Regions from separate parts of the Homo sapiens genome. Here region 2 is linked to region 1. The links come from fine-mapping of genetic effects on gene expression. A gene starts in region 1. The other region holds a variant in brackets. All regions are shown on one strand. Distances are from middle to middle. Region 1 holds the start of UBR2 (ubiquitin protein ligase E3 component n-recognin 2). Region 2 has its middle 46 kb from the start of UBR2.

Region 1 (16,099 bases):
ACAAAAAAAAAACTAGCCACTTTACATAAAAATATTATTAGTAAAACAAGCAAGTATTTCACTCTTTATTACATATTATTATAAATAACAAGACTTAAAAGTCTGGTCCAAGAAAGGCATGCATATGCTCCCCATTTTTCAAATCTTTACTACTCCTGGGCACAGTGGCTCACGCCTATAATCCCAGCACTTTGGGAGGCCAAGGTGGGCAGATCACTTGAGGCCAGGAGTTCGAGACCACCATGGCCAACATGGTGAAACCCCATCTCTACTAAAAATACAAAAATTAGCCAGGAGTGGTGGTGCACGCCTGTAATCCCAGCTACTTGGGAGGCTGAGGCAAAAGAATCGCTTGACCTCAGGAGGTGGAGGTTGCAGTGAGCCTAGATCACGCCACTGTACTCCAGCCTGGAGGACAGAGTGAGACTCCGTCTCAAAACCAAAAACTTTACTACCATTATATGAAAAAATCACAATCACCTAAAAGATTTGGGCTCTATTACAGGCACTTTAAGCTGATTAAACATACATACTTAATATAAAAAGCAAGAAAAATTTATGACTGTCTTTCAGAAGTAGCTCACACATTTCCCCAAAGAATAAAATCTATAGCTTTTCATATTAGTTCTAACATATGCTAACTGCAACTGTTTCTTCAACATGAAAAATTAAGATTTCCAGTTTGGTTGGCCTTTTGTCTTTATTTCAGACACTTGTAGCTGTCACACCCATGTGGCATAAGAGAGTAATAAGCATTCACTATCTTACTACAAGTCCCTCTTAAGGGAAGTAAAGAAACTGTCAACTCATTCCTCTAAAGTAAACATGTTATGACAATGTTTCCAGGAGCTTTCCCTCTATTAAATACTAAATTTAAGCCTTGGGATAGAAAGCAAGTACAATAAAATAAAAATGAAATGAAAAATGAAAGAATCCCTAGAGGTTAGTTAGCCTTTTATTACAGTCTCTATTATTCTATACCCAATTAAAATTGTATCCTTTAACTACTTTTGGTTTTGCTTTCAAACAAGGATAAGCAACATGTAAGTTAATCATAAAACAACTAGTGCTCATAACCATAAAAACAATAGTGTTTAAGTGGGAGTTTTAGGGAATATATTGAGAAAAATTTTAAACAAATTATATTAAGAGCTCTACAAATTAAGGAGAATATTTACAAATAAAATATAGAAATTTAATAGGTCAAAAGACTAATTGAAAATAGGCAAAGAAGACATAAAAATGGCCAATAAGCTCATAAAAAGATGTTCCAACATGACTCATGAGGGAAATGCAAATCAAAACCACAATGAGAAGGCATAACACCCAAAAGAATGGCTGTAATCAAAACACAGGCAAAAACAAGTGTTGGCAAGGATCTGGAGAAATTGGAACTCTCATGCACTACTGGTGGGAATGTAAAACAATGCAACTGCTTTGGAAAAATCTGGCAGTTCTTCAAAATAGTTAACATATGACCCACCAATTTCACTTCTAGGTATGTATATACCCAAGAGAAACAAAAGCATATGTCCCCACAAAAATTTGTAAAAAATGTTCACAGCAACATGATTCATAATACCCAAAAAGTAGAAACAACCCAAATATTCACCAACTGATGAACAGATAAATAATATATGGTTTATCTATACAAAGGAATGTCATTTGGCAATAAAAAAGAAAGAATTACTGACACAGGTTGAGCATCCCTAATTTGAAAACGTGAAATCCAAAATGATCCAAAATCTGAAACTTTGCATGCCCACACGATGCTCAAAGAAGTGCTCATTGGAACATTTGGATTTTGGATTAAGGATGCTCAACTGGTATAACTGCAAATATTTTAAAATCCAAAAAAATCCAAAATCCAAAACACTTCTGGTGGCAAGCGTAACAATACTCAACCTGTACATGGTACAACATGGATAAATATTTTATTTTTATTATTTTTTTTTTGAGACAGAGTCTCGCTCTGTTGCCCAGGCTGGAGTGCAGTGGCGCGATCTTGACTCACTGCAAGCTCCGCCTCCCGGGTTCATGCCATTCTCCTGCCTCAGCCTCCCAAGTAGCTGGGACCACAGGCGCCTGCCACCACGCCCGGCTAATTTTTTGTATTTTTTAGTAGAGACGGAGTTTCACCGTGTTAGCCAGGATGGTCTCGATCTCCTGACCTTGTGATCTACCTGCCTTGGCCTCCCAAAGTGCTGGAATTACAGGTGTGAGCCACCGCGCCTGGCCCAACATGGATAAATATTTAAAACATTATCTAAGAGAAAGAAGTCAGCCACAAATGACAATATGTTGAATTCCATTTATACGAAATATCCAGAATAGGCAAATCTACACAGACAAAAATTAGTAGTTGATTAGACCTCAGGAGTTTAGGTGTGAAAGGGAAGTGACTGCCAATAGGTACAGGATTTCTTTTTTGGGGTGATAAAAATGTCCCAAAATTGATCATAGTGATGATTGCATGAATCTGAATATACTAAAAACCACTGAATTTAACTGTACAGTATGTGAGTTATATCTCAATAAAACGGTTTAAAAAATGTACAGCAAAAAGATAACCAATACAGACCTAAAACTCTACATAAAACTTAACAAATTCATTATTTATTAAAACAAAATTTTTTTTGAAGACAGGGTCTCACTGTATCACCCAAGATGGAGTACAGTGGCATGATCATAGCTCACTGTAACTTCTAACACCTGGGCTCAAGCGATCCTCCCTGCTTAGCCTTCTGAGTAGCTAGGACTGCAAGTTCATGCCACCACACCCAGCTTATTTATTTTATTTTATTTTTTTTTAGTAGAGACAGGGTATAGCTAATGTTGCCCAGGCTGGTCTCAAACTCTTAGACTTAAGCAGTCCTCCCACCTCAGCCTCCCAAATAGCTGGGATTACTGGCATGAGCCAGTGCTCCCAACCTGTATTTCTTTTATATTCAGGGAAAAAGATGGGGTCCCGCTCTGTCACCCAGGCTGGAGTGCAGTGGCGCGATCTCGGCTCACTGCAACCCCAGCCTCCTGGGTTCAAGCAACTCTCCTGCCTCAGCCTCCCGAATAGCTGGGATTACAGGGGTGCACCACCATGCCCGGTTAATTTTTGTATTTTTAGTAGAGACAGGGTTTCACCATGTTGGCCAGGATGGTCTCTATCTCTTGACCTTGTGATCTGCCCTCCTTGGCCTCCCAAAGTGCTGGGATTACAGGCAAGAGCCACCACACCCGGCATGTTTACTTTTAAAACCGTAATCACTCACTGGAACATACTATAACCATATGTAGTATAGAAAGTAAACAGAGCCAAGAAGTGTTGGGAAAGTCATACTTATGGAGTCAATTCTAACAAGAAAAGAGAAGAATGAGAAGAGAGGGCCACTGTAATATCCTAAACTTACAAATATTAAAGAGTCAGCTTAGATACTTTTCTTTGTGAGGCATACTAGCTGGAATGGATGGGATCACAAAAAGTTCTTCCTCCTTATAACAGGAATAAGAAAAGCGGTGTGTAAATGAAATGTGGAAAGGTTGACACTAGTGCTCATTAGGTGATTTTTAAATGGAAGTGATCCTAACAAATTACCAATGACAGAGGTCTAAAGCCTACAATCACTGTTTTCTCTACTTGTTTCTCTTCCCTAAAATGTGCTTTCAACCTAAGAAAAAACTTTATTAATTTAAATGTGTGATAAAAAAGCTGAAGCCTAAGCTGAAAAAAACAGTTTTAAATGTTAGGTGTTTTAACTTAATACAGACAGTAAAGTCCTCACAAAGTAAGGCAAGATTAAGGTTATATAGTTGAAGGAATTTTATATTTTAATATTGGTTTTTGAGGTAGGAGGATCTCTTGAGCCTAGGAGGTCAAGGCTGCAGTGAGCTATGATAATGTCACTATACTCTAGTCTGGGCAACAGTGCAAGACCCCATCTCTTACCAAAAAAAGAAAAAAAAAAACTTATTGTTCAGAAAGGCATTTAAAAGTAAACAGGGTAGGCTGTGTGCGGTGGCTCACGCCTGTAATCCCAGGACTTTGGGAGGCCAAGGCGGACGGATAACCTGAGGTCAGGAGTTCGAGACCATCCTGGCCAATGTGGTGAAACCCTGTGTCTACTAAAAATACAAAAATTAGTCAGGCGTGGTGGCGTACGCCTGTAATCCCAGCTGTAATTCGGGAGGCTGAGGCAGGAGAATCACTTGAACCCCGGAGGCGGAGGTTGCAGTAAGCCAAGATTGCGCCATTGCACTCCAGCCTGGCGACAGAGCAAGACTGTCTCAAAAAAACAAACAAAAAAAGTAAACAGGGTAAAATGTAGCTCAGATTATGATCTTCACAAACTCAAATGAAGTCCAAATTAATAATTTTTTGTTGCATTTTCCTTGATTTTTCCTTACTGCATCTGCTTGAGAATTTCACTGAACAAGAACTAGGAGCACTGGCCTCCCGCACTACTTTTATAACCAGTTTCCTCAGGAGCCTCTACAAATTGGAGAACCTCTAATCACTTGATAGTTTGCACTTTTAGAATGGGATAACGGAATTTGTACCCTGTATCACTGGACCAAGACACAAAATTCAGTGAGAGAAAAAAAATCAAAACAGTACTTTGAGGTAAGCAACAGATATCAATTAGAAGAGGCATGGAGAGCAAACAGCTGTCATTATTATTTAACAGTTTACTTGTAACACTACTTTCATTTTCTTTTTTCAAATCTCCGATAAACGAAAGGCAGAAATTCCTTGAGTTGTACAACATTAAGTAGAAAGTAAATGAAAACAGACCTAGGCTAAACAAGTAAGTAGGTTTAAAAAAACACACCAAGGCAGGGCGCAGTGGCTCACGCCTGTAATCCCAGCACTTTGGGAGGCCCAAACAGGTGGATCACCTGAGGTCGGGAGTTTGAGACCACCCTGACCAACATGGAGAAACCCCAACTCTACTAAAAATACAAAATTAGCCGGGCGTGGTGGTGCATGCCTGTAATCCCAGCTACTCGAGGGGCTGAGGCAGCAGAATCGCTTGAACCCGGGAGACTGAGGTTGCGGTGAGCTGAGATCGCGCCACTGCACTCCAGCCTGGGCATCGAAAGCGAAACTCCGTCTCAAAAACAAAAACAAACAACAACAAAACACACCCAAACAAGCAAAGATTCAGCATTTAACAACGTATTTCTTTAAAGTCTTCACCTCTACTCCTGACATTTCTTTCTACCCGGACTTAATGTCCTCACCAATTCACGCAAAATAACTACTCACTGACCAACAGCTCCACAGTGCCCCCAATCCCAAATTTTGTTCGTAGCATTCAGATTGCTGACTTTTATTCACGGGTCACTCCCTTCCTAGCAGCCTTTTTAATTGGAGGTCTTAGAGGTGGGGCCCAAGCTGTCTTGGTCCATTCATAATCATTCTCGGCAATCTCTTCTAATGGGTGTTCCTACAACTCTGCTATTTACACTAGCATATTCATATTACAGTTTTAATGCAATAGTGCGTTTGAACGGTTTTACGTTTGGAATATAACTGCTCCTACTACACTGTGACCAGTTCTCACGTTTAGCTTATACAGTATTTGTTGAAAGCTGCTCTATCAACGTTATATAACATTTGTTCTCCATCCAATTACCCCTAACTCCTAGAAAAAATATTTTTAAAATTTCCCAGACTCCACGACTACTTTCTCATACTCAGTAAACTTTCCACACATGCATCAACGTTGTCAACTAATCAAACCGGTGCAAAAAAAAAAGATAGCACTGAAACGGATAACGAAGGGTAGTGTCGTTTGCCTTCTTGGTGCCTGGGGCAGTCCCAAAAACAAAAGAGGGGCTCGGTTAGGGTGGCATGTTTAGTCGGAGGAGCACACGGCTTCGCTTGTCTCAGGAAAAGCAATTAACTAGATAAACTAGGGCGATTATACCAAAAACACAAGAAGCGTCTCTTCTCCTCTTCCAAGAGCTGATATAAAGGGCAAAGGCCCATGTGTTGGGAGACTTAATGGGAGGCTGGGGGAAAGGAGGTATGATGGAAGAGCCGTGGGTTCTCCTGGGCAGAAAGGGAAAGTAAACGTAGTTAGTGCACAGCGCAGCTCTGGCAGCTGTTGAAAATGGAAAGAGAGGGGCAGGATCGGTGGCCTCCCCGGGCTATTACCCCACAAGGCGAGGGCCGGCACAGCTGTTTCCCCAAGTCTGGGTCGGGCTGCTCCAGGACGTCCAGGAGTCGGTTCCTCCCCACAGGCGCGGCCTGCGAGGGGCAGACGCACCCGCCCGGGTTCCGGCACTCACCCCCGCAATCTCCTCGGCCGAACATTCCAGCAAGCTCCGGTCGATGGCCTGCACCTCTGGCTCTAGCTCCGACGCCATCTTCTCTCCTCCTCCTCCCCAGCGCTACCGCCGCCCGGAGAGCTGCAGCCTCACCTCGGCCCCGGCGGCCTCGACTGCCACCCCTGCCCCAGGCAATCAGTCCCGGAGCCGTCCAAGTGGCTGCAGGTGGAGCAACAGAGGGAGAGAAGGGTGACGTGAACCGGAAAGGAAGGACAGCGGCCTCCTGCGCTCCCTCCCAAGCTTAGCGCCCAAGAGTCAAGTCACTGGCTCGTCCCTGACCCAGGGAAGGACACAGAAAACCCCAGGCCTGACACTCTCGCTGGCCACTACCGCGTCCTGCACCAGGAAAGGGGCAATAACACCCAGGAGGGGAAGCGGAGCTTTCTGGGTACTGTAGTTCTGGGTGCTGTAGGTACAGCACAGCCGGGAAAAAGGTGGCGCCCTAACACGGTGCCCCTCGAATGCATTGTGGGAGTTGTAGTCCATTCTCAAGGGGCGCTGGCTTAAATGGCAGATAAGCGGGCGGGGCTTTTCTGCCCAACGAGAATCATGGGAAGACAGTCGCGGAAAGCAGCGCCCCCTGGAAAAAAGCCAAAGAGAAAGATACTGTGGGAACTGTAGTTTTATTCTCCGAATCTCGTTTGTTCATTTTTGTATCCCCAGCTTCAAGAACACTGCCTGGCACATGGTAGACCCTCAAGGACTTGCCAGTCTGGCATAGGGTAGGCACTCAAATACTTGTCAAAGGAATGAATGAATTACATTCTATTCCTGTGGTTCTATGTCCTGTCATCCATCGAACCCATATCTTTTATACGAGTAATGGAGGTGAACATTACCCACTTTTTTGAAGGTTTAAAACATGTTTTAAAAAATTTTTCAAAAACTTTAGTGATGACCACTTATAAACTTTATCACAAATCTTGCTGCAAAGGAAAAAGAGTCTATTAGGCCAATTAAAAGATTTCCTCTTGATAGAGACATTTAATTTCTACAGATAATCAGACCAAGCTTGGTGGCTCATGCCTGTAATTCCAGCACTTTGGGAGGCCGAGGGGGGCAGACTACTTGAGCCCAGGAGTTTGAGACCAGTTTGGACAACATAGCGAGACCCTCTTGATAAAAATCAAAAAATTAGCCAGGTGTGGTGGCACGCCTGTAGTCCCAGCTACTCGGGAAGCTGAGGCAGGAGGATTGCTTGAGCCCAGGCAGTTGAGGCCATCGTGAGCTGTGATCAGCCCACTGCACTCCAGCCTGCGTGACACAGCTGAGACCCTGTATCAAAAAAGAAGGAAAAAAAAAAAAAAGAAATAGGTAAACATTGTTAGACTAGCTATCAAAGAAAACTATGTTTAGTTAAAGGTAATTAGACTCTTGACTGACAGCTGGGTGACTGGGCTTCTTAGAAGTCTTCAGTCTCTAGAGTTTGTCAGAAAATTGTTTATACCTTTTGTCAAGTGTGTTAATTTATTCCCAGAAGTAGGTTGTAAATTACATATAGGGGGGAAAAGTTCTGAGCCAGACCAGGTTTAGGACATGTTTATGTTTATGTTGTTTTGGGATTTTTTTTAAACCAATACTATGATATTAACCAGTTTTTTAAAAAAGGAAATAAGAAACTGCCTGTATCCCTGTAACCTCACAATACAAGTAAGCCTTCTTATCACTTTTTAAAAGTTATATATATATATACATATAAAACATCAGAAATTCAAACTCGAAAGGAATGTTTTAAAAAAGGAAAATTGAAAACTTCCTATTCCTCTTACCCCAAGTCCCTCTCCCCAAAGAAAATCATTTTTGACACTGTCTTATGAGTCTGTCCAGAAAAAAGTATGCACATATCTGTACAGATATTTATAATGAGATATCTTGAAATATTCTTCTATGTATTTTTCTTTTTTTGCCCAACTTCCTTACACTGATCCACTCAGGACAGAGTCAACTTGGAAGAAAACTGGGATTGTCCCAGCCTAGAAGCAAAAACAACATCTCTTGAGCTGTCCTAACATAGAATTTAAGTCGTTAATAGACTGTAAAGGCAATTTCTGTTCTTAACATTATTTGCTTCCTAACATTATTTGTTTCAGGCCGAGCATTGTGGCTCACACCTGTAATACCAAAACTTTGGGAGGCCAAGATTGGAGGATAACTTGAGGCCAGGAGTTTGAGACCAGCCTGGGCAACATAGCAAGACCCCATCTCTACAAAAAAATTTAAAAATTAGCCGAACATGGTGGCCCATGTCTGTAGTCCTAGCTACTTTGGGAGGCTGAGACAGGAAAGATCACTTGAGCCTAGGAGTTCAAGCCTGTAGTGAGCTATGACTGTATCACTGAACTCTAACCTGGGTGAAAGAATGAGAGCCTGACTCAAAAAAAAATTGTTTCCCTTGTGTGTCATAATTATGAATTTGGAGATCATCTTCACTTAGCATTAGTAGCATTAGCAGTGGGACTCTCCATGTATTAATACTTTCAAAATACTTTTTCATTTGCTTCTGCAAGGCCAGACAACCTAGAAAACATCGTATACTCAGGACCAGGCACTCTAGGAGTATCCTGTATCTAGGACCAATTGTACGTCAGTTTCTAGGCTTGAAGATTCCCTAATAGTATTAATTCAGTTGTGTGCCATTTCTCTGTCTATAATTTTTGTTTTTTTGAGACAGAGTCTCACTTTGTTGTCCAGGCTGGAGTGCAATGGTGCAATCTTGACTCACTGCAACCTCTGCCTCCCGGATTCAAGCGATTCTCCTACCTCAGCCTCCTAGGTAGCTGGGATTAGATGCGTTGGTGGTATAGTGGTGAGCATAGTTACCTTCTAAGTAGCTGGGATTATAGGCACGTACCATCATGCCTGACTAATTTTTGTATTTTTAGTAGAGACAGGGTTTCACCATGTTGGTCAGGCTGGTCTCAAACTCCTGACCTCAGGTGTTCCACCCACCTCAGCCTCCCAAAGTGCTGGGATTACAGGTGTGAACCACAGTGCCCGGCCTGTCTATGAATTTTTAAGGAGAGTTCTTTTTCCTACTCAGAGTCAAGGTAAAGAGCTTCTTTGTCATTTTTGTATGCCAGTTGGTGGGTTTTTTGTCTAGTCTACCCTTTCACTGATACGACATTCCTTTGAAAGCCCTGGCTTTATGTAGAGGATCTCAGTTGCAATTCCAATGTTTCTTTGACCCAGGGTCTTGTTTTCTGTTCCCATGGGGGCATTAAGAGCTAAGCCCCAACTTCCAGTTAAATGTGGCAGATTGAATACCTCATGACAGTAAAGGGAGAAAAAAAGAAAAGAAGAGAGGATGACAGCACCAAAATTTGGTGGAAAGCAAGTGGTTGAGAAGTAACTAAGAGAATGCTGAAACCTCCGCTAGCAGTAGAGACACTGAGTCAAGCTAATTAATATGCAGTACCCTGAAAGACTTAAAAATTTGAGGCACCATGTAACTCTGAAAGTGGGTGAAGACAATGCTAAAAGCAAGCTTATTGTTTGAAAGTCTGTATAGCAAGAAGTTAGATCTCACTTCCTACTCTGGAAGAAGACTAGAGCTTTATCCTCTAGAGTGACTACACTTGAGGGCCTTTTGACTGGGAGACACCAGACACAGCTGAGGACAGGGATACCGCACTGCATTCAAGAGAGATGAATCAAAGTCTACATAGTGAACAGGGATAACCTAGCTTATTTCCCCATTTGGCTCTGAGAACCTTAGTGGCCAGGCTTATACCTCCCAGGCAAGAGTTTGGGAGGGTCTTCTCCAGAGGGGTAGATTATCTCACCACCAAAAAAATCTGTAGAGGTCATGCCTGTAATCCCAGCACTTTGGGAGGCCGAGGCGGGTGGATCACCTGAGGTCAAGAGTTCAAGACCAGCCTGGCCAACATGATGAAACCCTGTCTCTACTAAAAATACAAAAAAAGCTGGGCATGGTGGTGGGCACCTGTAATCCCAGCTACTCGGGAGATTGAAGCATGAGAGTCGCTTGAATCCAGGAGGTGGAGGTTGCAGTGAGCCGAGATTGTGCCACTACACTCCAGCCTGGGTAACAAGAGTGAAACTCCATCTCAAAAAAAAAAAAAAAATTCTGTAGAGGATAAGACCCCAACAAAATGGTATAGTCAGTTCACCCCACCCATGCATAAAACTTCTAATCATATTTTTAGTAAGTCATTCTTAAATATGAAGACAGGCGGTTGTGTACAGATACTTGAGCAAAGCCTATGGAAGAGAGACTAAAACAAAAATGACGAAGGAAGAAACAGACACAAGTCAGAAAGTTGGAAAGAACTTTTACAAATGTTATTAAAAACACTGGAGGAGATAAGCAAAGATTTTATATCCAAGAAAGAAGTACAGGAGGCTAGGGAAAAGGAGTTTTTGTTTGTTTATTTGTTTGTTTTTGAGACAAAGTTTCACTCTGTCACCAAGGAATTTCACTCAATTTTTTTTCTTTCTTTTTTTTTTTTTTTTTTTAAATAGAGAGTCTCATTCTGTCATACAGGCTGGAGTGGGGTGGCATGATCTCAGCTCACTCCAACCTCCACTTCCCAGGTTCAAGTGATTCTTCTGTCTCAGCCTCCTGAGTAGCTGGGATTACAGCCACCTGCCACCACACCCAACTAATTAACTAATTTTTGTTTTTTTTTTTTCAGTAGAGACAGGGCTTCACCATGTTGGCCAAGCTGGTCTGGAACTCCTGACCTCAAGTCATCCGCCCTCATTGGCCTCCCAAAGTGCTGGGATCACAGGTGTGAGCCACGGCTCTTGGCCATAATTCAGTATTATTTAAATCACCTGAAGCATTGGAAAGAGACACTGAGTTCATCAATAAGGTTAAATACATTATGATGCAGGCCAGGCACGGTAGCTCATGCCTGTAATCTCAGCACTTTGGGAGGCTGAGGCGGGCAGATAGCCTGAGGTCAGGAGTTTAAGAGCAGTCTGTCCAACATGGTGAAAACCTGCTCTACTAAAAATACAAAAATTAGCTGGGCGTGGTGGCAGGCACCTGAATCCCAGCTACTTGGGAAGCTGAGGCAGCAGAATTGCTTGAACCTGGGAGGTGGAGGTTGCCGTGAGTCAAGATCACGCCATTACACTCCAGCCTGGGTGACAAGAGCGAAACTCTGTCTCAAAAAAAAAAAAAAGAAAGAAAGAAAAGAATCATTATTGGGTAAAACATCAATATGAGTTTCTGTTTTATGTATTCATTTAACAACTATTTATGGAGTACTCAATACATTTCAGACATTGTTCTAGGAACATGGATACATGTGTGAAAAAAGGGGATCCCTGCCTTCATGGAACTCACATTTTAGCTATTCAGGAAATATGGCACCACCATTCTCAACACAAATACCTAGAAATATTGGGTGAAAATATAATAAACATAATCTTATATGAACATTTTAAAGGATAAGGCATCCAGTGCCATTCTGATTCTGGAGTCTTTGCGTTTTCTCCTGGAAGTAAAGGATTCTTTCTTTGTTCCTGTTGCTCTAAAATTTCCCAATGACTTGCCATAACGTTATTTCTACTTAAAACCATTGTGCTGGCTATGGAAGGGCTCTTTCCGTCTGGACACTCATGTCCAGTTCTTGGAAATTTTTTTGAAATTATTCCTTGATAACTTCTTCCCATTTATTTTATTTGTTCTCTCTGGGACTCCTCTTATTCAGAGTTTTCACAATTTAAATTTCTAAGAGAACTTTTTTGTTCTTAAATGTTCCTTTTGGCCAGGTGCAGTGGCTCACACCTGTAATCCCAACACTTCAGGAGCCCAAGATGGGACAATCACTTGAGCCTAACAGTTCGAGACGAGCCTGGGCAACGAAGTGAGACCCTGTCTCTACAAAATATAAAAAAATTAGTCAGTTGTGGTGATTCACATGTGTGGTCCCAGCTGCATGGGAGGCTGAGGCAGGAGGATCACTTGAGTCCAGGAGGTCAAGGCTACAGTGAGCCAAGATCCCACTACACTCCAGCCTGGATGACAGAGTGAGACTCTGTCTCAAAAAAACAAACAAACAAACAAAAAAATCGAATGAAATCCCTTGTTCATATAGCTTGCCAAAATCCTTTTAAGTATAGCCAATGGATAAATTCCTACAAGGAATGTGCTAAGTCAAAAGGAATAATGTAAATGATAAAAGGGCAAAAGGTGCAGAGTGAGGCTCAGAGTCTACAGGACTATGAAAAAGGCCTATTTGGGTACCCCTTGTCACTCACAGGCATTCAGAGTCCCCTCTCTGTGTAAGGCTCTCTACTGTGGCCTCTCACTGGACCTAGTTATGTTCTCAAACTTCAAATCTTTACTCAACCTCCTATTTCTCCCCCTACAAAAGTAACCAATCTATATGCCATTTCCTCAGAGCCCAACCTAGTGCCATATTTATTCTTCCATCAATTAGCTAAGAAATTCATTGAACAAATATTTTTGCACTCCTGCTAAGTACCAATTACACTTTTGTTTCTGGGATATACATCAATAAACGTAACAGGCAAGGCTACTGCTTTCACAGAGCTTGCATTTTAGTGGGAGAGACAAGCAATAAAAAAATAAGCTGGGCTGGGTGTGGTGGCTCATGCCTGAATAATCCCAGCATTTTGGAAGGCCAAAGTAAGAGGATTGCTTGAACTCAGGAGTTCAAGACCAGCCTGGGCAACATAGTGAAACCCTGTCTCTACAAAAAATGCAAACATTAGCCAGGCATGGTGGCACACACTTGTAGCCCCAGCTACTCAGGAGGCTGAGGTGGGGGGATTGCTTGAGCCCAGGAGGCGGAGGTTGCAGTGAGTCAGGATCATGCCACTGCACTATAGCCTGGGCAACAAAGCAAGACCCTGTCTCAAAAATAAAAAAGTAAGCTAAAGAATATACTATATAATTTTTAGATATTGACAAGTGTTAAAAGGCAATAAATATTATACAGAAGGTGAAGGTGAAAACGGAGGTAAGGGCATTAGATAGGTTGGTCAGCGAGATGTGCATGAGAAGTGGGGAGTTGAGCTGAGTACTGAGTGAGAAGAACCCATCATGTGAAAATCTGAAATGAGAGCATTCCAGGCAAAAAGAAACAGCAATTGCAAAGGCCCTGAGGGTGAAATGAACTTGACTTGAATCAAGAACAGTAAGATAGCTGCAACTTTTAGCCAACAAGTTTCAGATAAACTAATAAATGCTATGCTCACTAGTAATAGGCATAGGTATATTATTCCTATTCCTTAGTAAAATTGTTTCAGATATGTGTTATTATTTTCAGTTAAGACTTCATGAAATAGACTGGGCGTGGTGGCTCAGGCCTGTAATCCCAGCACTTTGGGAGGCCAAGGCAGGTGCATCACTTGAGGTCAGGAGTTCAAGACCAGCCTGATCAACATGGTGAAACCCTGTCTCTACTAAAAATACAGAAATGGTGGCAGGTGTCTGTAATTCCACTACTTGGGAGGCTGAGGCAGGAGAATCACTTGAACTCAGGAGGCGGAGGTTGCAGTGAGCCCAAGATCGTGCCACTGCACTCCAGCCTGGGTGACAGAGTGAGGCTCTGTCTCAAAAAAAAAAAAAAAAAAAAGAAACTGAGACTCATAAAGGCAAAGTAACTTGGCCACAGTCACCGTGGTAGATTGCAGTTTTATGGCCCTAATTAACGACATTCCTGCCTCCACTCCCTTTGTAATGTGACTCAGCCACTCTTTCTATCAAGAAGTGGGAACTGTTTTACCACCCCTTGAATCTGGGCTGGCCTTATGATTGCTTTAGTGAATACAATGTGGCAGAAATGACAGTATACAGTTCTAAACCTAGATCCCTAAATATGGCCTTGGACGCTTCAACCCTCTCTAGGACTCCCCTGCTTTCTCCATGTGAACAAGTCCAGGATAGCCCACTTGGGGATGAGAGATCATATGGAAGAGAACAGAGGCATCTAGCTGACAGCCAGCCAGCTCCCAAAAGCAAAATCATTTAGCTGACCTGTGGATAGCTTAAGGTGTTACCGGTAGAGAGTGTCTGGGTTCTTGGTGCTTTGAACAAAGAATTGGACAAAATACACAAAGCAAGAATGAAGCAACAAAAACAGATTTATTGAAACAAAAAATCACACTCCATAGGGTGGGAGCAGCTAGAGCAAGCAGCTGAAGGGCTTGGTTACAGAATTTTCTGGGGTTTAAATACCCTCTGGAGGTTTCCCATTGGTTACTTGGTATACACCCTAGGTAAATGCAACCAGAGACTGAAGTTGCCAAGTTACACCCTATGCAAATGTCTGATTGGTTGCGAAAAGTGACCAATCAGAGGCTGAAGTTACAAAGTTATACTTCTATGCAAATGAAGACTTGGCCCTTGACCAGCCTGATTGGTTCCAGGAGGGGACCAATCAGAGGTACTTTCAGTTTTTCATCTGCCAGGCAGAAAACAGGGTGGGGTAGCAGGGAGGAGAGGCTTGCAAAGGGAGTAGCCTCTGATCATTTGTTACTTGGGTGTGGAAAGTTGGGGTTCACCCAGGCTGGAGTACAGTGGTACCATCTCAGCTCACTGCAACTGCGGTTTTCCTTTTGATTTAGTTCTAGGAAGTCAGTGTGAATCTGCCTTAGGTTCTCTACCTCCAAACCCTATTCTCCTGCCTCAGAGGCAGGTGAGAGAGGCCAGGGAGACCAGGAGCACTGGCCTAAATTGCTGACCTGCAGAATTGTAATCTAAATAAATGCTTGTTGTTTTAAGCCACTAAACTTTGAGGTGATTTTGTATGTACCAGTAGCTAATCAATTCAGTTGCATTGTTAGATCAGCAGCTCAACTGGCATTTGAAATCTGGTCTCACCAACTCCAAGGCTCATGTTCGTCCCAAGACAGGCTGTTCCCCCTACAGGCCTACTTCTAGGCAAATTATTTATTTCCTAATTAAAATAACCAAGCTTGTGTATGTTAGGCCAAAACCCAGTCTCCCTTCTTCTGGACTGGTCCTAAACTAATTAGTTGGGTTTCTCTTCTCCTGTCCTTCCTTCCTTCTCTCTCTCTCTCTCTCTCTTCCAGCTTGCTCTGTTGCCCAGGCTAGAGTGCTGTGGTGCAATCTTGGCTCACTGCAACCTCTACCTCCTGGGTTCAAGCAATTCTTTGGCCCCAAGCCACCCAAGTATCTGAGATTACAGGCGTCCACGACCATGCATGCTAAATTTTTGTATTTTTAGTAGAGACAGGGTTTCATGATGTTGGCCAGGATGGTCTTGATCTCCTGACCTCCAGCAATCCACTGCCTTGGCCTCCCAAAGTGTTGGGACTAGAGGCATGAGCCACCCTGTCTAGCCGGGTTTATCTTAAAGGCCATGGGTAAAAGATTGAGAACTTTCATGTCCTGGAATTCTTTCAAAACATTGGACATAGATCTATCTCAGGAGTGTCACACTGTGTCCAGAATTGGTGGGTTCTCGGTCTCACTGACTTCAAGAATGAAGCCTCAAACCCTTGCAGTGAGTGTTACAGTTCTTAAAGGTGGTGTGTCCAGAGTTTGTTCCTTCAGATGTGTCTGAAGTTTCTTCCTTCTGGCAGGTTCGTGATCTCGCTAGCTTCATGAGCGAAGCTGCAGACCTTCACAGTGAGTGTTACAGCTCTCAAAAGCAGCACAGACCCAAAGACGGAGCAGCACCAACATTTATTGCAAAGAGCAAAAGAACAAAGCACCCCCGCCACACAGAAGAGTACCTGATCAGGTTGCTGCTGCTGGCATTGGTGGCCTGCGTTTATTCCCTTATCTGGCCCCACCCACATCCTGCTG
Region 2 (16,099 bases), 44 kb after region 1:
ATCTCAGCCTCCCGAAGTGCTGGGATTATAGGGGTGAGCCACTGTGTCTGGCCAAGTTAATATTTTAATGAGCTTAAAATATTGGCTCACATAAAAATACCATACAAGTGTTTGTTGGATGAAAAAATAGGCCAGGCCCAGTGGCTCATGCCTGTAATCTCAGCACTTCAGGAGGCCGAGGTGGGTGGATCATTTGAGACCAGGAATCTGAGACCAGCCTGGCCAACAGGGCGAAATCCTGTCTCTACAAAAAAATACAAAAACTAGCCAGGCGTGGTGGCATGCACCTGTAGTCCCAGCTACTCAGGAGGCTGAGGCATGAGAATCGCTTGAACCAGGGAGGCAGAGGTTGCAGTGAGTTGAGATGGCACCACTGCACTGCAGCCTGGGTAACAGAGTGAGACTCTGTTCTCAAACAAACAAAACAAAACAATAAAACATGGTGCCATTGAGAATGATATTTTTAAGAATATTTAAGTATTTAAAATTTTTATAATGAATTATAAGTGAAAGAGGTTATAAAGCAGTTATACATTATAACATCATTTAAACATACTATATACCTAGAAGAAGGGCTGAATTTAGCAAAATGTTAATATTGTTGTTGGGAGGTAGAGTCATGGGGCATTTTTATTTCTGTGCTCTGTGTTCAGAATAAGGTTGTCACATATGGCCTCATAGGTTGCGCACTGCACAACTCCAGGAGGCCCCCTTTGTCCTTCTTCCTACTTCCAACTTGCATAACCTCCTTTATTGCCCACACCTTCTAGAACACAGACGTATTACTCTCATGTAATCAAACAAATAAATACAGTTTAAAAAATTGCAACCTTGCCTTTTCTTCCTAACATACTTCAAAGACAAATGAAGTTGACCTAGTTTGTCATTTTTATTAGAGCTGGAGAGAAATTACCTCTGGACTCTAAAACGGTTGTTATAAAGGTAAACTCAGCAACTCTTGGGACAATCAAGGAATGTACAGTCATGACTGCAGAACTGAAAGGTACTGCGTCACATGCGTAGGATAAGTAAACATATTTGGCCTGAGTAAGTTAATCACATTTTTAAAACCCTGAAATGTATTTTATCTACTGAAAAAATTCAGAACTGCTGAATCAGAAATGATGAATATGAGCATGAAATGCTCATATTAAATTCACAATGAAGAAGATTTAAAATAAAATGATTTAAATAAAGAGATTTAAAGTAAAATGATTCTCCCGTCATGCACAGGACAAAAGGAGCCTGGTTCTTAATGGCATTCTACACTAACCCTGGACTTCTCAGCTCCATACTTCTTATATGTAAGATAGCAAATATCTTTACTACTTAGGCCACTGTAATTGGGCACTGTTCTTTGCAGCCAAAGCATTATATAAGAAGCTTTGAACCCCTCCCTTCCCTAGATGGAGTCAAACAATTCCTCTTCTATGTGCTCACGACCCATTGCACCTCTATTCTAGAATTCAGCATATAGTGTGATATGGTTTGGCTCTGTGTCCCCCAACCAGATCACATCTCGAATTGTAATCCCCACGTGTTGAGGGAGGAAGGTGATTGGATCATGGGGGTGGTTTCCCCCATGAAGTTCTTGTGATAGTGAGTTCTCATGAGATCCAATGGTATAATGAGGCAGTTTTTCCTGCTCTTGCTTGCTCTCTGTCCTGCTACCTTGTGAAGAAAGTGCCTTGCTTCCCCTTCCGCCGTGATTGTAGGTTTCCTGAGGCTTCCCTAGCCATGCAGAACTGTGAGTCAATTAAACCTCTTTCCTTTATAAGTTACCCAGTCTCAGGTAGTATCTTTACAGCAGCGTGAATACACTGCTGTATATTATATAGAATAATATATAGAATTATTCTATATAGGATATGGAATAATATATAGAATTATTCTATATAGGATATGGAATAATATATAGAATTATTCTATATAGGATATGGAATAATATATAGAATTATTCTATATAGGATATGGAATAATATATAGAATTATTCTATATAGGATATGGAATAATATATAGAATTATTCTATATAGGATATGGAATAATATATAGAATTATTCTATATAGAATTATTCTATATAGAATATGGAATAATATATAGAATTATTCTATATAGAATATGGAATAATATATAGAATTATTCTATATAGAATATGGAATAATATATAGAATTATTCTATATAGAATATGGAATAATATATAGAATTATTCTATATAGAATATGGAATAATATATAGAATTATTCTATATAGAATATGGAATAATATATAGAATTATTCTATATAGAATATGGAATAATATATAGAATTATTCTATATAGAATATGGAATAATATATAGAATTATTCTATATAGAATATAGAGTAATATATAGAATTATTCTATATAGAATATAGAGTAATATGTAGAATTATTCTATATAGAATATAGAGTAATATGTAGAATAATTCTATATAGAATATAGAATAATATATAGAATAATTCTATATAAAATATAGAATAATTCTATATAGAATATAGAATAATTTAATTTTTTATAAATAATTATAAATATTATACTGCATTTAAAAAAATTATAAATAATAATAAATTAAATTAAATAATTTAAATATTATTTAAATTCTATATATAGAATATTCTATAGAATAATACACTATTATACATGGTGTAATAGTCATTTACATGACTTGTTTGTGAGATCATCCAAAAAATTCATGGATTGTCTTTTATTTCTGTAACCTCAGTACCCTTCCTGGTGTCTGACACAGAAACACTTGTTCAATTGGTGTCAAGAATTTATATATTCACTGTTGTGGGAGATATGGAGGGTGCTCTTTTTTGAGAGTGTAAAGGAGTGGGGATGCAGCTCATATGCATGCACAGATGAATAGTTCCATAGCCTGAGCAAGGCTGTCGGTAAAGGCTGAGTCAGAAACACCCTAGGAAGCCTGGCGTGGTGGTGCGTGCCTCTAGTCCCAGCTACTCAGCAGGCTGAAGTGGGATGATTCCTTGAGTCCGGGAGTTTGAGAACACTGGGCAACATAGTGAGATCACAATTCTTTAAAAAATAAAAAGGAAAAGGAATACCCTAAGGATCTCTCCCCATAAGCCCTGAGCCTCTGGCAGGGAACTCCAGAAAACTGGTAGATGGAACCGAAAGCAACTCTAGATGCAGGGGAGGGGCAGTATAGAGGAGTATGTCTCCTCCCCCATTTGGATTCTTAGGATTCTTTTTAGAAATTATTGTTATTTTATATTTTTACATTTTTGGAGATTAAAATGTTGGCTTCGTTACAAAGCTAGATTGAAGTATGTGGTATGGTTGTCGAGTGGGCTTGCCGTTACTCTTCTGTTTTGAACTTACCCTCCAAAGTGCCATCTTCCACCCCTGCTGGGGCAGAGCCTGTCCTGCTTGGCTTAACACATGGCTGGAGGTCAGACTAGGATGCACCTGCACTCCATAGATCAGGCTGCCAATCGCAATGGCTGGCTGGAGTGAAAGTGAATTCGGAAAGCCAGGCCTGCCTAGGACACAGGAGTTGGGGGATGAGAGGTGGAAAAAAAGGAGGAGTGGGAACAGGGAGGTGGGCACATGTACAAAGACATGAACTTACACCATATAATCTGCTTTTTTTTTTTTTTGAAATGGGGTCTCACTCTGCCATCCAGGCTGTAATGCAGTGGCACAATCTTGACTCACTGCAACCTTTGCCTCCCAGGTTCAAGTGATCCTCTGATCTCAGCCTCCCAGGTAGCTGGAACTATAGATGTGCACCACCATGCTCAGCTAATTTTTTTGTATTTTTGGTAGAGATGGGATTTCACCATGTTGCCCGGGCTGGTCTCAAACTCCTGAGCTCAAGTAATCTGCCTGCCTTGGCCTCCCAAAGTGCTGGTATTACAGGTGTGAGCCACCGCACTTGGCCTACCCTGAAGTCTTTATGATCCTTCTCACTTTTCTGTCCTGGTTTAGCTCACTGAGAGGTCACAGTTTTTAAATATGCACCCTCCCCCCACCCCCCACCAATTTTGGTTTGGCTTTTGCTTTCTTACAGTAAAAAGAATGCAGCTTCTGAACCAGCCAAGGAATGTGGGCTGTAAAGAATGGACTGTTTCATTTTGATATCATCGTATTTTGATACTTTCTACACAAAGTTCCAGTACAACAGTTGTAATTATCATTGGCAGAAATATGCAGAATTCTCAAGGTTGAAATCTGGGACCTGAGGTTGCAGTAAAAGTATACAGTCTAGAGTGCTTTTTCCAGAGTTCAGATGTTTCACTGGGCAAGTCTGATAAACCGAATTGATAAAGTGTTAATGACAGAGAATAGGTGTATATGTAAGATCACCCAAACCTCATTTGCTTTTTTTTCTTTTTTTTTAGAGATGGCGTCTCACTATGTTGCCTAGGCTAGAGAGTAGTGGTTACTGACAGGTGCAATCATAGAGCACTACAGCTTTGAACTCCTGGACTCAAGTGATCCTCCCACCTCAACCTCCTGAGTAGCTGGGACTACAGGCATGTGCCATTGTACCCCACTTCATTTGGTTTTTTGCAGCTGCTTTCAATGCCTGGCCTCAAAGGAGGTTGTCCTGGAGGTATCTTGAGCCATATGGCAGGTTTTTTCAGAGAGGGGGGCTTTATTTAGCACCCCTTAATCATGGCATAAGGGATGCTCCTATTTTATTTCCCCAACCCTCCCCACAAGGCTGGTGATTGGAAGGAACATAGTGTAAAAGTGGGGGAACTTTCCAGATCTTATTAAGAAGAAGCAAAACACAGGTGGCCCCAGAGCAGGGACCCTTCCAGCCCCACCCCATCACAATGCACTTCACCAGCCCAGGCAGAATCAGGAAGTGAGTGAGTGAGAACACAGAGCTCCATCAATATCACCATGTCTGGGTTCCGTATAGTAAATTGACCTGATTGGGCTCCATTCAACCAGTCTGAGTTCAGCCTCTTCCTTCAGTCTCCTCAGCCTAATACAGCCCTGGGCCCAAAGAGCACACGGTCCACCAGCCCAAGGTCCCACTCTACAGCCACCATCCCTACATTGCTAATCCTGCCCAGCCATCAAGCAAATGAATCTCCTGAGGGTTCTCAGGGGACTGAGTGAGAGTGTAGATGACTCAGTGTGACCTCTCCCTACTGTTAGAGAAAGCTCAAAGCAAATAGTTTGTGACGGTGAGTTAGTAATGTCAGCCGCAATATGGAATATTTTGTGGCAAGTACAGCAGTGAGTAGCATTTGCAAACCTTTAAGACTAATTTTTGTGCCATGAAAGAAAGGGGAAGTTGGAGTCAATAGACTGAGCCTCTGATGATTTATATCTGAGTTTCGACTTGTGTATTTCATTCACTTCTGCCACATTTCTTCTAGTCTATCTGCCTTTGGGGATCTCGTTGAAAGAAGAGTGAGTCATTGTTTGGCCATATCTTCTTTTTAATGTGTTTAATCCCATAATGTAAAAGAGAATTAGGCAAGAGGTTTAAGAGATTAAATAAGATTCATCACTGAATTATTAAAAATTAAGCTCTGGCTTAAAACAAGCTAATAGGAGATGTGTACAACAGTCTTCAGCATTGCAAAGGACACAAAAACTCCTTATTCAGGCATAATAGATGCTATCCATTAGTTTCTTGGTAAAATCAATAACTAACAATAATAATGTGCTCAAAAGTTATCCTTAATGTTTTTCTCAGACAGTGTGTCACTGTCACTTAGGCTGGAATGCAGTGGCATGATCGTGGCTCACTGCAGCCTCAATCTTCCAGGCTTGAGAGATCCTCCCACCTCAGTCTCCTGAGTAGCTGGGACTACAGGCATGAACCAATGTGCCTGGCTATTTTTTGTTGTTGTTGTTTTCTTTTGTTGTTGTTGATAGTGTTGTTTCTGGTAGCTAGTCTCCAAAGGTGGCCCCCAAGGATCCATGCCTCCTATGACTCCTGCCATTCTGTAGTCCCCTCCCACATGGAATCTAGACTGGCCCAGATTCACTTTAACCAATAAAACATGGTAGAAGTGATACTTACATCAGTTCCAGGCCAAAGCCTTAGAAAAGTCTCAAAGTCTCCCTTTTTGCACTTTTGGGAGCTCTGTGCTGCCAGGTATGAAGTCCACCTCCTCTGCTGGGAAGGCCATGTGGAAAGACAGAGGCCTTGAGACTATGTAGAAATAGAAAAAATCCTAGCGGCTCAAGTACCCCATCTGAGTCCAGCCTTCCAGCCATCACTGCCAAGGTACCAGACACGTAAGAGAGATAGCTTGGATTTTCCTGTACAGTAGTACTCCCAGGTGACTGCAGCCCCAGCCAACATCACATAGAGCAGAAGAACCATCCAGCAGAGCCCAGTCAACCTACAGAATAGCAAGAGAATAAAATGGTTGTTGTTTTAAACCCCTACATTATGGGATAGTTTGTTATACAGTAGTAGAAAACCAAACACTTTTTATATAACAAATCTGATTATTTTTGTGAGTAAACAAAGTTAATAAAGTACATATTATATAAAGTAATTAAAAACATTCAATTATTTTGCAGAACACTCAATCAGAAAGAAGCCCCATTGGCTTGGCACAGTGTCTTATGCGTGCAATTCCAGCACTTTGGGAGGCTTGATGCAGGAGGATTGCTTGAGCCTAGGAGTTCAAGACCAGTTTAAGCAATATAGCAAGACCCAGTCTCTACAAAAAATTTAAAAATTAGCTAGGAGGGCTGGTGCAGTGGCTCACACTTGTAATCCCAGCACTTTGGGAGGCCAAGGTGGGTAGATCACGAGGTCAAGAGATCAAGACCATCCTGGCCAACATGGTGAAACACCGTCTCTACTAAAAAAAAAAAAAAAATTAGTTGGGCATGGTGGCGTGTGCCTATGGTCTTAGCTACTCGGAGGCTGAGGCAGGAGAACCACTCGAACCTAGGAGGCGGAGGGAGGTGGAGGTTGCAGTGAGGCGAGATTGCACCACTGCACTCCAGCCTGGCAACACAGTGAGACTCCTTCTCAAAAAAAAAAAAAAACAAAGTCAGCCATGTGTGGTGGTGCATGCCTGCAATCCCAGTTATTTGGGAGGCTGAGGTGGGAAGATCACTTGAATCCTGCAGGTCAAGGCTGCAGTGAGCCGTGATTACACCACTGTATTTCAGCCTGGGTGACAGAGCAAAATCCTGTCTCAAAAAAAAAAAAAAAAAAA[AAAAAAAAG/G]GAAACAGAAAAAGAATAAGAAGCTCCCATTAAAGCAATATTTAGACCACAATGAAATAGGATAGCTATAATTTAAAAAGACATAATAACAAATATTGACAAGGATGTGGGGAAATTGGAACTCTGCACTGCTGATGAGAATGTCAAATGGTGCAGCTGCTTTGGAAAACAATCTGGCATTTCCTCAAAGTGTGAAACATAGGTTTATCATATGACCCAGCAATTTCACTACTAGCTATACAACCCAAAGAAATGAAAACCTATGTCTCCACAAGAACTTATACAGGAATTCCTTGTAGCAACACTATTCATAATAGCTGAAAAGTAGGAACAACTCAAATGTCTATCAATTGATTAATGGATAAATAACATGCGGTATTATCTATACAACAGGCTATTATTTGATAAAAAGGAATGAAGTACTGATACCTGCTGCAACATGGATGAACCTTGAAAATGTTCAGTGAAAGAAGCCAATCACAAAGACCACATAGTATATTATTCTATTTATATGAAATATGCAGAATAGGCAAATCTATAGAGACGCAAAGTAGATTAGTGTTTGCCTAGGGTTGTGGGCAATGAAGAATGATGGCTAATGGGACAAATGGGTACAAAATTTCTTTCAGGGGTAATGAAAATATTCTAAAATTGATTGTGTTGATGATTTAAAACTCTGTGAATATACTAAAAACATCATATCGTACATTTTAAATGGATGAACTGTATGGCGTATGAATTACATTTCAATAAAACTGTTATAAAAAAAGAAGAAATCTTCCATGAGACTGATGTCTATTTCATTTCATCTCCTTGGGCATGAGAGTCCTGCCTATCATCAGATAGGGCTCAATCAACCCAGATATCTAACTATAGCAGTATGTACTTGAATGCACTTTTTGACAGGGGAGTTTATAGAAACAACATATGAGCTGAAAACTGAATGTCCGTTTATTATACAATCAGTATAGTATAATTTTACAGTTCATATCTCGTCTTCTCAATAAGGTGATGATCAATACAGAGATTTGGGCTGAATTCTAACATTCTCTGATTGTGAGATTTTGTTAAGTCACTTCTTGGACCTGCTGTATTGAGTTCCACATCGCTTCTTGCTGTTCTGTCAGGTCCTTGTATCAAGATTTTTGTTTTTATTGTCTGATTATGAAGTGATATTAGCTTGTCAGCATGAAGAATGGGAGGAAGGAAGTGTTGCCCCCTCCTCAACTTCCCAGAAAATAAAATAACTATACTTGCAAGAACCATTAAAAGTATCTGAATTCACTGCTTATATAGCAAGAAAACATCAGTTACAGTTAGAGTCGCCTGCAACTGGATGACAGCAAAATTTTCATTGTCTAATGGTTACTGTATGGTTGACTATTTTAGTTGTTCTCATGTTTTTGAAATAAATATGTATGCTCTATTTGCTATTGGGTACAGTTGTATACATCTCCATTAATTCAAACTGTTTAACTGCCCATTTAATTCTTCTGTAGACTTACTAATGCTTTAGCTACTTATTTAGAATTCACTTATTATTTAGAATGTATAAGTATTTACTTATTGATAATCTAAAAAGTGTCAGGCCCCATGCTGGGCCCTGGAGATTCAATCCTAAACAGGACACAGTTCCTGCCCTAAAGTAGCTCATGGTAGATGACAAATGTCTCAGTACATGAGGTTGTAGACCTTCAATGCCAATTTGTGCTTACTTTGGATTTTTATTTAAAATGTTTAAAAGTATATATTTTATTTAAAATCTCACTTTTTTACTATCAAATATTGATAAAGCAATACTAAAATCTTCCACTATGATTGTGAAGTTATCAAATTCTCCTTTGGATCTGTTAATTTCTGCTTAATACACTTTGACTTTAAGGCTTTACTCTTAGGTACATGGTGGTTCTGATTGTTAAATCTTTCTGATGAGTTCTATTAACTCCTGTAGTGTCTAATCTGCTGTTCAGGCCACACAGTGACATTTTATCTCAGACATTATGGTTTTCATCTCTAGGGGTTCAATTTGGGCCTTTTTTATGTCTTCCATGTCTCTACTTAACATGCTCAGTCTTTCCTCTAGCTTCTCAATCATGTGAAATATACTTACAATAACTTTCAATGTTCTTATTTACTAATTCTGTCATCTGTGCTGTTTCTCAATATGGTTCTATTAATTGATTTTTCTCACTGTTATGGATTATAATTTCCTACTTCTTTGCATACCTAGTAAGTTTTGATTGGATGTCAGACATTGTGTATTTTACCTTGTTAGATGCTGGATGTTTTCATATTCTTATAAATGTCTCAAGCTTTGCTCTGGGACAGAGTTAAATTACTAAAACACAGTTTGATCCTTTCAAGTCTTCTTCTTGTTTTTAATTTCAATAGGTTTTGGGGGGGAACCAGGGATATTTGGTTACATAGATAAGCTCTTTAGTGGTGATTTCTGAGATTTTGGTGCATCCATCACCTGAGCAGTGTACACTGTACCCAATGTGTAGTCTTTTATCCCTCACGCCCTCCCTTCCTTCCCCCGGTCCCCAAAGTCCATTGTATTGTTCTTATGCTTTTGCATCCTCATAGTTTAGCTCCCATTTACAAATGAGAACATACAATGTCCATTCCTGAGTTACTTCACTTAGAATAATGGTCTGCAACTCCATCCAAGTTGCTGCAAATGCCATTATTTTGTTCCTTTTTATGGCTGAGTAGTAGTCCATGGTGCGTGTATACATACATACATTATATATATATATTTAACATTTTCTTTATTTGCTTGTTGATAGGTGGGCATTTGGGCTGGTTCCATATTTTTGCAATTGCAAATTGTGCTGCTATAAACGTTTGTACAAGTGTCTTTTTCATATAATGATGTATTTTCCTCCGGGTAGATACCCAGTAGTGAGATTTCTGGATCAAAAGGTAGATCTACTTTTAGTCCTTTAAGGAAACTCCATACTGTTTTCCATAGTGGTTGAACTAGTTTACTTTCCCACCAGCAGTGTAAAAGCGTTCCCTTTTCACCACATCCATGCCAACATCTATTATTTTTTAATTTTTTAAATTATAGCCATTCTTGTAGGAGTAAGGTGGTATCACACTGTGGCTTTGATTTGCATTTCCCTGATAATTAGTGATGTTCAGTATTTTTTCATATGTTTTTTGGCCATTTGTACATCTTCTTTTGAGAACTGTCAAAAGAAAGACTCATTATGGCAGATGTAATCCTGCACTACCCAAATCTCTCTTCCAGACCAAAGGACCTAATCCTCCAGATGCTGGGTACTGGGAGCTGGGGCTGCTTCTAGAAGACAATGCTCAAATGTCAGAAATGTCAGTCCTCTACAGGAATTGCTCTCGGCTGAATAGTGCTGCTTTACTCACAGGGTCACACTACTTCCTGGAGACAGGCTGCATCCAGTGATTGGTTGATGCAGGACTACAAAGAACCAGTCTTCTCATCCCCATGGTGGACAATTCTAAAGTTCCATGTTCGTCTCAGAGTTCCCCGTGGTAGGATGATCAACTCATCCTAGTTTGCCAGAGACTATCCTGGCTTTAGCATTGAAATTTCCACATCCTAGGAAACTTCCAAGTCCTGGGCAAACCAGGTCATTCTTTTCATGAGGTGGCTGAAGTCTTAGTTGAGACTCCATCATAACTCACCCTCTCCCTCTGCCCAGTCCTGCTTCCACCCCCGACACTGGTGCTGATCCCAAGAGCACTCCCTGATAAGCCTCCTGTGTGCTAATCTGTGTCCCAGTCTACTTCCCAGGGAAACCAACCCACCAGCCGACAACACTCACATCTTTTTAAATTTTATTATAGAAAATTCTTAGATATTCTCCTCTTTAAAGATTGCTTTTTTCATATTCCCTCTTCTTTTCTGCAGGGATGCTCACTAAATGCATGTTGAATCTCTTTTTCCTCCATTTCTCTTAATCACTCTTTTTAAATTTTCCGTTGTCTTCTAACTTTGAATTTACTAATTTTGTCTTCATCTGGGCCTAATTTTCTGTTTAACCCATCTATTGGCTTTTACACCTTAATAACTTCCTTCATCTGGCTTTGAAGACACCATTGTCACCTGGTTTTCTTCCTGTATTTCTGGGTGTTCTGTTTCAGTCTCATTTGCTGGTTCCTCTTCATCTTCCTTACTTCCTAATGATGAAATCCCCAGGGCTCAGTCCTTGGACCTCTTCTCTTTTTTACAATCTCAACCACTTTCCAGATGAAGTCATGAGTCTTATGACTTCAAATACCACAGACATGCTGATAATTTTCAAATTTATGTCTTTAGTTCAGATTTCCCCCCTAAACTCCAGACCCCTATACCTAGCTGGCTAGGAGATATCTCCACTTGGAAGTATGGAGCTCCTGATCTTCATTCCCAAACCCTGCCATTTTTCCTATCTCAGTTAATGAGATTACAGGTGGTACTCAGATATTACAGATGCTCAGTTTAAAAACCTTTAACTCCTCTTTGTCTAACACTGCAAATACTGGAAATCTTATGGGTTTTACCTAAAAATAGATCTGGTCCAAGTCACCATCATTTCTTGCCTGGATTATTGCAGTAGTCTCCTGGCTGGTCTACCTACACTTTATTCTCAATATGGCTGCCAGAGTGATGCTGTGAAATTTAGTCAGATCCTTATGTCCCTCTGCTCAGAACCCACCAGTGGCTCCCTTGTCATTGGAGTAAAACCAAAGTCTTCAGTGTGGCCTGCAAGCCCCTGCATGATTTGGCCCCCTGTTATGTCATGAACTCATCTCCCATTACTTTCTCTCTCGCTCTCTCACACACACACACACACACACACACACACACACTCTACTTCTATCCACACAGCAAGCAAGGCTCCTTGCTGTGACTTAAAAACACCAGGCAGGTTCCCCACTCAGGCCCTTTGTTCTGGCTGCTTCCTCTGCCTGAAAAGTTCTTCCCCATATACCAATTTGGCTTGCTCTCTCACTTTTTCAGGAGTGGAATAAAAATCACTTTCTCAGTGAGGCTTTCTCAGACGCCCTATCTAAAATTTCAACCGCCCCGTCTCCTCTGTTTTCTTTTTTCTTTTTTTTTTTTTGAGACAGGGTCTCACTCTGTCACCCGGGCTGGAGTGCTGGAGTGCAGTGGCACCTGCAGCCTCGACCTCCCAGGCTCAAGTGATCCTCCCACCTCAGCCTCCCCAGTAGCTGAGACTACAGGTGCGCATCGCCACACATGGCCTTAACCCCCTTTTTGATGTTTCATATCCCCCTTCCCTACTTTATTTTTTCTGTGTAGCACTTAGCCCTACCTAACATGCTACGCATTATATTTATTGTGTCTTCTTCATTAAAATGTAAACTCTGCCAGGCATGGTGGCTCATGCCTGTAATCCCAGCACTTTGGGAGGCCGAGGCAGGCAGATTACCTGAGGTCAGGAGTTTGAGGCTAGCCTGGCCAAAATGGCAAAACCCCGTCTCTACTAAAAATACAAAAATTAGCCGGGTGTGGTGGCACACGTCTGTAATCCCAGCTACTCAGGAAGCTGAGGCAGGAGAATCGCTTGAACCTGGGAGGCGGAGGTTGCAGTGAGCCGAGATTGTGCCATTGCACTCCAGCCTGGGTGACAGAGCGAGACACCATCCCCAAAAAAAAAGAAGTAAACTCTACTAGGACAAGGATTTTTGTCTGGTTTGTTCACTGCAATATCCTCAGAGCCTCTGTGTGTCTGGCACATTATATGAGCTCAATAAATATTTGACGAATGAATGAATGAGTGACTCTATTTTTCATTTCTGGAAGTTTGATTTGGTTCTTCCTTCAAATTGGCCTACTTTTATTTAATAGTGTCCTGTTGCTTTTTAATTTATAGTGATTAGTTGCATATGCTCTGGAACTAAACTGCGTGGGTTCAAATCTCAGCTCTGCCACTCTAATAGCTTGTGGTAACCATGAGCAAATTTCCTAATATCTCATCTGTAAAAGAGAGAAAGCAATAGTACCTACTTCACAGGAACTTTGTGAGGATTGAATGAGTTAATATTTTGTGAAGCCCTTAGAACAGCATTATATGTTTGCTATCATTATCATTATCACCATCATTTCTTTAATCATTTAAAGTCAACTTATTATTTATAGCATCCTCTAGATTCTCTATTGACTTTTGGTTAAGTGCCAATTTTTCTGTTTGTTGCATATGCTAACTCTCTACTGATAAAAATCTAATCACCACGGAGCATCAGGAGCCAGTCTGTAGTCTGACCAAATTAGTTATTAACTCAGTCCAGCAAGGGAGGCCACTCCGGGGGAAATGTGGAGTGTCGCTCCAAAGAGGGAAGACAGGAAGCTGCTGAAGGATTCTGAAGATTCTAAGGGAAGTAGGCATCAGTTCTGGATTGGTTGCTCCTACTCTGGTTGGGGGTGGGGTCAGTTAAGAGAAGTGGGGATTAAGTAGGTATTGGGTGCTGCCATGAGGCAGCAGTAGCTCAGCAATGGGCTAACCAGCAATAGGTGGGTATGGCAAAGCTGTCTGGGAGTTTGGTAGGAAAGCAGTCAACGTTCAAAGAGGGGGTCTTTATGGCATTTTACAGCTGCCGACTGACTTTGGGGGAAGCAATGTTCCTGTGAACTTTGCAGCTGGCTTTCTTTATGTCTGTCTTCTTTCTGGCTTGAATTGACAGTTGCTTTTTCTTTTCTTTCTTTTTCCAGTCCAACCTATTTTTCACTCTTTAAATCTTAGACAGGATTTGACTCTCACCAGCATAGTAGGGTGTTTGTAATTTTTTATTGTGAACTTGTCTTCAGCAGGTTGTTTCTCCCAATGGGAATCCTTGAAACTCTTGAGTAGTAACATTTTCTCCGCGGAGATGATTCACACATTTGCTTCTGCCAGAATGCTGAGTGTGTCAATGGCCCTCACTCCTATGCACATGGCATAGGCCCAGGGTTTAGGTTTCTCTGGATGACATTTTCCCCCTCATGTTCCAGACCTTAAACAAATGGTGAGCTTCCTGGCTGATTCCCAGGGCCCATGTCCAGTTTTTCTATCTCCATTTAAGGGGGGAAGAGTGCCACAAGGCCTTATTTATTTATTTATTTATTTATTTATTTATTTTAAGATACGGAGTCTCACTATGTTGCCCAGACTGGCCTCAAACCCCTGGGCTCAAGCGGTCCTCCTGCTTCAGCCTCCCAAGTGGCTAGGACTACAGGCATGTGCCACCATGCCAGCTCAAGGCCTTCAATTTTATGCAGGGCTCGCTGCCTTCCTCCTGTCCTCTCACAGGTATTAGCCCCCGGCCCTAACTCCAGATCCATATTCTTCTGGGCTACTATGACATCAGCTCAGCTAGCTGCTCTGCCTTTGATGGTTCTCTTCATTCCTAGCACCTGGAGATTTATTTGGATTATACTTTATTCCACATCTTCTCTGCATTTGTGCTAGAACTGGGCCTACTTCCACAGTAGTTTCGTTGACTCGGTCCTGATGCTAGGACCTCAATGGTGGTTAAAAGCTCAGGCTCTGGGGACAGACCTGGGTTTAAATCCTGGAGTCCATGGTTATTTTTTCTATGGCTTTGGTAAACTCTTTAAGTGTCCTTCTCTTGTCTGTAAAATGAGAACAATGACATGCCTATTAAATGAGGTAGTAAATACCAAACACATATATAAGAACTCAGTAGCCAGGAGCGGTGGCTCACGCCTATAAGCCCAGCACTTTAGGAGGCAGAGGCAGGTGGATCACCCGAGGTCAGGAGTTCAAGACCAGCATGGCCAAAATGGCGAAACCCTGTCTCTACTAAAAATACAAAAATTAGCTGGGTGTGGTGGCATGTGCCTGTAATCCCAGCTACTCAGGAGGCTGAGGCAGGAGAATTGCTTAAATCCAGCAGGCAGAGGTTGCAGGGAGCTGAGATCACACCACTGCTCTCCAGCCTGGGTGACAGAGCAAGACTCTGTCTCAAACAAAAACAAAAACAAAAACAAAACTCAATAGATACCATTATTATTATTACTATCAATATAGAAAATTAAAGAAATAAAAAAGAACAAGAAAGACAATAGTGTGTGCCACCTGGTGGCAAGACTTACCTCCCAAATCAGGAGGTCTTCCTCCATCCATCTTGGACACATTCTACCTATAAATACAGAATCCTTACCCATTCAGTTGCCCCCCAAAAGCCTTTGATTTCCTCAGGATGGTTCCGAAAAACACCTTCCTCTTGTTACTTTACCCGGAACATGGCTTAAGTCTTTGGCTGCTGGAGATGGAAGATCTGCCTTTGAATATGAGAGTTCTGACCAGCTACTTCTGTGTTCTGTGTTTTGTGATGTGTTGTGTCAGTGGGTTAGTGTTTTACTGCTTCCTCTTAAGTAGAAGAATAACTTTCTTTTTGGTGACTTCTGAAACAGAACGTCCCCCTCCCCAAGACACACAAGTGTGCATATACAGGCACACATCAACCAGGCAGTATGCCGAGGTCATAACACTTCATTCATAACACCATTAAATTATAATCTAACCTTTAAATTATAGTTAAGATGATCATCAGCAGTGCAATGCCATGTGAGCTACACATATTTATTCCCCACATGTCTGATTTTGGAAATCCGACATCTTCTCTAAATGAGTGCACCTTCCTCTCAATGCTCACTTTCTCAATAAAGATAAATGCATCATCTACACACATACTCAGTTTCTATCCCTAAATTTTCCAGCCAGGGAAATCTAATAACTGTTTTATATATCCAAGGATATCTATGTGTCTAGCTATCTCATGCTTCTGGAATTCTACATTCACATATTATGAAGACTAAATGGAAAAGCCCGCATGGATGTATCTAGCCCTCAGTTGGTACTCAGTCAGCCCTCAATAAATGTTGGAATTGAACATGTCCCTAGCC

Evidence for each region.
Region 2: its variant is fine-mapped to the expression of UBR2 in whole blood (INTERVAL, PIP above 0.99).

Annotation. Positions count from the first base shown.
Region 1 is chr6:42,554,587-42,570,685 of GRCh38, reverse strand. It overlaps UBR2 (ubiquitin protein ligase E3 component n-recognin 2), which reads right to left and starts at 6,657. Exons shown (of 47, transcript NM_001363705.2): 1 at 6,289-6,657. The coding sequence starts at 6,366. RefSeq lists a silencer at 5,264-5,393 and enhancers at 6,426-6,945, 7,016-7,095.
Region 2 is chr6:42,510,196-42,526,294 of GRCh38, reverse strand. No RefSeq gene overlaps it. Among named protein-coding and RNA genes, the nearest start is that of UBR2, 46 kb to the left of the region's middle. The variant AAAAAAAAG/G (reference allele first, on the strand shown) is at 7,196.